2 linked regions of the Homo sapiens genome follow. The protein of the gene in region 1 interacts with the protein of each later gene in a pairwise test. Each region holds a gene or a part of one and is shown on either strand. Other genes may lie near its edges.

What was found. The genes of interacting proteins can lie anywhere in the genome.
Region 2: the proteins of GBP7 (region 1) and PBX3 interact in a two-hybrid assay, tested with the Homo sapiens proteins (one large-scale study listed by BioGRID).

Annotation. Positions count from the first base shown.
Region 1 is NC_000001.11:89,173,204-89,177,232, forward strand, and holds the start of GBP7 (guanylate-binding protein 7), read right to left. Parts: upstream 2,801-4,029; 5' UTR 2,718-2,800; intron 1-2,717.
Region 2 is NC_000009.12:125,925,373-125,928,872, reverse strand, and holds part of PBX3 (pre-B-cell leukemia transcription factor 3), read right to left. Parts: intron 1-3,500. UniProt on the Homo sapiens protein: Transcriptional activator that binds the sequence 5'-ATCAATCAA-3'.

The DNA of each region.
Region 1 (4,029 bases):
AATGGTACTTTGACACCAATATATCACTCTAGGTGTGTTCATTATTTCTAGACCCACTCAGGGGCAAAGTTAAGAAATATATGTATGTATACTAGGACACATCTATATTTATTTTTATCTGTACATTTCTATAATAAAGCTTGAGATTCTGTTGATATTTCCAGTTCCAATCCAACACATCTGAGCTTATTCAAGCTTTTGACTTTCCTTTTTAAACTATTTTCTCCAAGTAAGCTAGACTTTGGTCTTCTAACACATAATACATTTGTTTCCTTGCTCAGTCCTAGTATATTCATATAGTAGTTTCAAAATTGATAATAAGTCTGTGGAAAAATAAATTTACTTCCTATAGAAAATTATTAGTGTACAGTTCTTTTGGTCTTTAGCCTTATATACACACTCAAAACATTGCATTCCAAAGTTGCTTAGGTTAGCTTTTTCCTTCTCCACCTTCTTCAGTATGGTTAAATTATTCATTTGTAAAACAGTTAGTTACATTTGTTACTGTTTGTGTTTCAGTTTGGCCTCCTTCACATCTTGGTATCTTGGTTGATTTTAAGTATGATTTATTTTTTGAGTTTGTGAAACATCATGGTTCTGAAATGCAGAGCTTTTCAAAAAGTTACAGTCAGAGAAGTGTCACTTTTCCTTCATCTTACCACTCCACTCACATTGCAGTGGTCTTCTATTCTTTCTACCACATTCCCACCCATCCTCCATAGATACCCAATCTTGTTAGTTTCTGGTTTACGCTTCTTGGATTTTCTTTTCTCAAATGAGAATGTACATATTTTCTTTTTCACATTTTCTAACACGAAGATCACATCATATAGAAATTTGGAAATCCCTCCACATCTGTTCATAGAAAGCTTTTAAAATCCTTTTAACATGTATCTACTCCTTTATGTGGATTATACCCCAGTTTATTCAATCACTCTTCAATGTATGGGCATTTAGATTGTTTCAAATATTTTGCAATTACAAACAATGCTGCAATGAATAACTCTGCTAACGTTATGCATGTGTATTTTTATATTGTTACAGGAGTAATTTCAGGATAGAGTCCTACCAACGGGATTGCTTGGTCAAAAGATGAGAGTATATAATTTTGTAGATATTGCCAAGTTCCTCTCCAGAAAGTTGTACAAGGTTGCATTCCCACCAGCTCATCTTGTATGTCATTTTCTAGAAAATGGAATTTTTCCTAGGTGCCCCGCTTGCTCTTCTGAATTAATTACAAAATTTCCTTTGGAAGCTTTTCACGTTCACATTTAGATCTTTGGACTGAGCAAAGCTGAGCTCGCTGAGCTCATGTATATAGTAGTAGTAATCTTCACCTGGGAAACATTGTGTTATACATATCTCTATACTTTGAAACATAGATACCATTCTAACCCATTCTTGGTCCTGATTTCTTGCAAGCCCCTCTGTGGGCAGGGTCTGGTCAGACTGTGGGACTCAGGTTACCCAATGGCTTCCTCCTCTCACTGTGCATCAGCATTCACACGTTATTCATGCAAGCCTGATAGCTCGCACCTGACACTTACTCTGTTGATTTTTGACTTGATTATGTTAACAGATTTTGAATTCTCTGCATTTGAAGATTGATTCTTTATTACCTCCATGTATATCAGTCTGCATATTGTTTTTAATTATTTCATGTAATGAAGTCACAGCATGAAACATTCTTTGAAAAACCATGGCTTGTTTTTTGTCTGATCTCTGCTGTATAGAGAGTAGCATATGCACAATTGTAATCATGCTATCTTTATCCAGGGCTTGATAAATTAAATATTTTGATAATTTTGTAAAGTTAAAAGGAGTGAAAAGCCTTCTTGTAGTGATGCTTTAATTTTGTGTTTTTAAGTTGAATGTCTCAATCCTTGTAACTTATGTGATCATGATACAAAATATATAATCTCTTTAAGATACAAGCAAATATAGATGATAGATACTGCAGTTTTCTTTTTTATCCTATAATAAAGAGTGGTTTGTTTCCACTATAGAGTTGGTTACTTCTGACTTGTTCCTCTGGAGGTTTATATTAAATTATCTGGCTTCCCATCACTTCAGCAGAAGATGGAAAAAAAGCCGTTTATTTTTCTGTGATCATGACCCATTTCCTCTTATAGCAATGGCCTACAGGATCTGCTGGCAAGCAAGAAGGGCAAACCAGAAACTAAAAAGATTGGGTATCTATGGAAGATGAGTGAAAACAGAGTATGCGTCTGTCCAATTCTGTAGCATATACTATGCTACCATAACATAGGAATCAATCAGTCACCGGCTCAGAAAGGTGGTGGCACAAAGATGTTATAAGGTCCTGGATTATAATAATGTGTTGCCTCTTTTTGCAGATCCCAAGTTGCCTACCTTCATTTACCTAGAGCTATAAATGTTGGGCCCAATAAAGAAAGTGACAGAGCCTATTAGGCAGATATTTAAAGATAACAGTAATTTAAGATGGTGTCAGAAAAGAAATAACAATCTTAGAACACTGGCTTCTCTGAATATCTGTTCCACCTCTGCTGAAGCCTAATCTGACACAGCAGGAATTAGAGCACACTAAGGTACACACAGCCACCTAAGAGGCCAGGATTTCATCTGGACTTGTATCCTGTAGCTGGCTCAGCTGCAGCCTATCTTGGGGATGGTCAACTTAGAGAAAACTAATGGATCCTTATAAATCATGAAATCCTTATAAGTCATAGTCTTACCCAGAGTAGAGATCCTCTGGACTTGGTAAGAAGGCAGCTTCAATGAGAAAGTTATGAGTCTTTATTCTCTTCTCTTTAGTTCTGAATTTGGCTGCACTGATTTCTCCCACTTTTTTTCTTGCTGGAACTTTGGACTTTTACCTTACCTCTCCAATGTCATGGGGCTTTCCAGACTTTCTAGAGACCTGTATTTATACATGTAAAAAACAATGCAACCTCTGCAAATAAATAGAGTAATATGACAGTCCATGATTTAGCAACAATAAAAGAAATTGCTGACAGCTGTGCTAGTGAGAGGATTTGACATAATTTCTCAAACAGAATCTTCCAATTTTATTATTGGAAGAGATCTTAGAGACAGCTTGCGATTATTAAAAAAACTTCAATGAATCGTTTAAAATAATGACATTCATCTCATGTTTGTGGGCCACATTGAGAAGTACAGGAATAAGAAAGCTTAATATAATATTATTTAGGTTCAATTGGCTTGAATATTAGACTCTTAAAATGGAACTCATTATTTGTGTTTAATAATGAGGACTCTAAATGCCCTGAAGGAATGTCCACGTCTTATACATGTTTGAATTATTAGCACCTAACTCAGGTCTTGGCACTTAACATTTAATAAATAATAATGAAGATAGTACCCGTTTTGTTTACATAGATTATCCCATTGTATTCTTATCACAAATACTTTTACCACAATGTTAAAAGAGGGATTTAATAATTTATTACAATTACAGAGCTACTAAATAAGATTTGGGCCCAAGAAGTCTTGCTGTCAGTCACTTCATTAAAATACCTCTGTGTTTGCTGAGTGTACAATAACAATGTTTTCTCCTTATCAGTTCCATTCTAGGCCATATTCTTTACACATACCATTTTAAATATCAAAATACCTCAAGATAAAGGTTGTTTATTATCCCCATTGTCCAAGGGGGAAAAATAATCAGAAAACGGGTAATTAATATGTCTAACTAAAGCCATTGAGCTACACACCAAGGTAGCAAGTAATTGAGCGAGATTCAAACTTGAAAATCCATTTGGTTAAAACCACATTGATTCTCTACTGCACATTGTCTCTAAAAGAGAGGAAGGTGGGAAGCGGGGAAGAGAGAGAGAGAAATGGAGAGCAGAGAGTAAGACTTCTCTGTGTGTGTGTGAATATTGATGAGATTTAAAGTGAAAGTAAGGCAGGGTTATTTCAAAACAGAACTATTGCTAGGAAATCACCTGCTTCTAAGTAATAAAATCTATTGTTTATATCATGCAAACAAAAAATAGCCCCAGGCAAAATTGAATCTTTGTGAAT
Region 2 (3,500 bases), on another chromosome or scaffold:
TTTAGTGGATATAAGCCATCTCTGTAAAGCAGCTCAACTCTTCAAGGGATGTCCAACAGAAAATAAGGATCAGATCTGGGTCTCAAACTTTTTAGTTAACAATCCTCAGGCCGGGCGCGGTGGCTCACGCCTGTAATCCCAGCACATTGGGAGGCTGAGGCGGGTGGATCACGAGGGCAGGAGATCGAGACCATCCTGGCTAACACAGTGAAACCCCATCTCTACTAAAAATACAAAAAATTAGCCCACCGTGGTGGCGGGTGCCTGTAGTCCCAGCTACTCGGGAGGCTGAGGCAGGAGAATGGCGTGAACCCAGGCGATGGAGCTTGCAGTGAGCCGAGATCGCGCCACTGCACTCCAGCCTGGGCAACAAAGCGAGATTCCAAGATTCTGTCTCAAAAAAAAAAAAAAAATCCTCAGACATTGTCTCTTTCAGTACATACACAAAAACACACACACACACACACACACACACACACATTTGTTTCCCCTAATATTCAGAGTCTCACTGTGTCACCCAGGCTAGAGTGCAGTGGTATGATCATAGTTCATTGCAGCCTCAAGCCCCTGGGCTCAAGCAATCCTCCCATCTCAGCTTCCCAAGTAGCTGTGACGACAGGCATGTGCCACCATACCCAGCTAATTTTTTATGTATTTTTTATTATTATTATTTTTTTTTGTAGAGACAGAGTCTTGCTCTGTCGCCCAGGATGGAGTGTTGGAGTGCAGTGGTGTGATCTCGGCTCACTGCAGCCTCCGCCTCCTGAGTTTAAGCAATTCTCCTGCCTCAGCCTCCCGAGTAGCTGGGACTACAGGTACACACCGCCACGCCCGGCTAATTTCTTTTGTATTTTAGTAGAGATGGGGTTTCACCATGTTGCCCAGGCTGATCTCAAACTCCTGAGTTCAGACAATCCACCTGCCTCAGCCTCCCGAAGTGCTAGGATTACAGGCATGAGCCACTGCGCCTGGCCCCCAGCTAATTTTTAAATCTTTTTTAGAGTCAGGGTCTTGCTATGTTGCCCAGACTTGTCTCAAACTCTTGGCCTAAAGAGATCCTCCCACCTCAGCCTCCTGAGCTGCTAGGATTACAGGTGTGTGCCACTGCATCCAACTTCATCTATATTCTCTTTGATTTATAAATCTGTATAACTGGGCCTACACTGAAATCCAGTACTGCCTGGTAAATAAAGCATCAGTTTATACTCCTGAAGAAAAAGAGTCTCTTCTGGCATTTTTCTTAAAAATGCAGGATGGGAAATTCTGCATCTTACTGCACGGGTGTCCCTGATGGAGTGAGAAGACAGAAAAATCACTGATCAATGCAAGACATGTTTGGAAGTTATAATAATGTCCACTTCCCTAGAGATATCCCAAACATTGCTCACATATAGCACATGATGGTTTTTCTAACTGCTCATTAGAGGACTAACCTTTCCTGAACCCTGTGTATTTCACTTACTCTAAAATTTTATAGAGCTTTCCATAAATATTTCTAAGGTAAGGTAAAATGAGTCTTATCATGTAAAGTTTTTTCAAAAATATGTTTTAAGCCATAGGAAATATTAAATTCCTTGTGAGTGGTGACACTATATTATACTTACGGGATTCTTCAGTGTAGAATTATGCAATATACATACCTAATAAACATCTACAGATTGGTGGGCTTTTTAATACTACAATTCAAGAGTGAGAGTTATGTTGGTTAATAGCCATAAATTCATTATCCCTGAATCATAAGAGAAGAATTCTTAATCTGCAGTCAATGGATAGGTTTAGAAGGTCAATGACCTCCTGAAATCCTACACAAGTTGTGTGCATATTAATAATTCTGATGAGAGAATCTGTGAAGCTTTTGTTTTCTTTTCAGAATCTCAGTCTATAATTTTAAAAGGTTAATAATCATTGTCCCAGGATATGACACAGTAAAACATTAAGCAATGTTGTAGACTAAAACCAGAAGTTGAAGGCAGAAACCAAGATTTAAAAAAATAAATTTAAGATCTTCCCCACTATATTATCAATTTATTTTATCTTATTACTATTTTTTTTGAGACGGAGTTTAGCTCTTGTTACCCAGGCTGTGGTGCAATGGCACGATCTTGGCTCACTGCAATCTCCGCCTCCCAAGTTCAAGCGATTCTCCTGCCTCAGCCTCCCAAGTAGCTGGGATTACAGGCGTGTGCCACCATGCCCGGGTAATTTTTTTTGTATTTTTAGTAGAGATGGGGTTTCACCATGTTGGTCAGGCTGGTCTCGAACTCCTGACCTCAAGTGATCTACCTGCCTCAGCCTCCCAAAGTGCTGGGATTATAGGCATGAGCCTGTAATAAATAGCACCTGGCCTATTATTTTGAGACAGTTTCATTCTGCTGCCCAGTCTGGAGTGCAGTGGCATGATCTTGGTTCACTGCAACCTCCGCCTTCTGAGTTTGAGTGATTCCCGTGCCTCAGCCTTCCAAGTAGCTGGGATTACAGGCATATGCCACTGCGCCCAGCTAATTTTTGTATTTTTAGTAGAGACAAGGTTTTACCATGTTGGCCAGGCTGGTCTCGAACTCCTGACCTCAAGTGATCCGCCCACCTTGGCCTCCCAAAGTGCTGGGATTACAGGCGTGAGCCACCATACCTGGCCTATATTATCAATTTAAATGATTTTATGCCAAATTAAAAACAAGTGGTCACCCTACCAATAAATATACGTATATATCTTTTTCTTGAACTTTCCCTAAGGAGATGTTTATATAATTTCCAAGTTATGTAATGTGACCAACTCTACCCTTCAGTTTTCTCATCAGTAAAACAAAGATAATTGAAGTAGAACTATTCCAAAACTGGGATTAACAAATTCTATAGTTCTACAGCTAGTTCCATAGAATGTTAACTAATAGTCCAACAATATGATATGTTTGGGAATTGCTGGGTTAACCAAAATCTTAAAAACTTTTTGTGGGTAAGACTCTTCAGTATTCCTATCCTAATATTTGTAATAAATCTTCAAGGAGAAATAGCATATCCAACTTTTTCCCAAATAAATTTGGCCACAAAATTTCTCTCTAGAGTAATCCTGTCCAATAGAAATACATTGTGAGCCACATATTAAATTTTTAAATTCTCAGTAGCCATATTAAAAAATAAAATACAAAGAATTAGGTGAAATTAATCAACAATATATTTCACTTAACCCAATATATAAAAAATATCCTGGCCTGGGCAACATGGTGAAACTCCGTCTCTACCAAAAATATAAAAAATTAGCTGGACATGGTGGCACGCCTGTGGTCCCAGCTACTTGGGAGGCTGAGGTAGGAGGATCACTTGAGCCCAGGAGGCAGAGGCTGCAGTGAGCTGAGATTGTGCCACTGCATCCAGCCTGGGTGACAGAGTGAGAGAAAGAAAAGAAAGAAAATTAAGAAAGAAAGAAACAAAGAAAGACAAAAAAACTGTTAATGAGGTATTTCATTCCTTTTTTGTACTCTTTGAAATCTAGTGTGTATTTT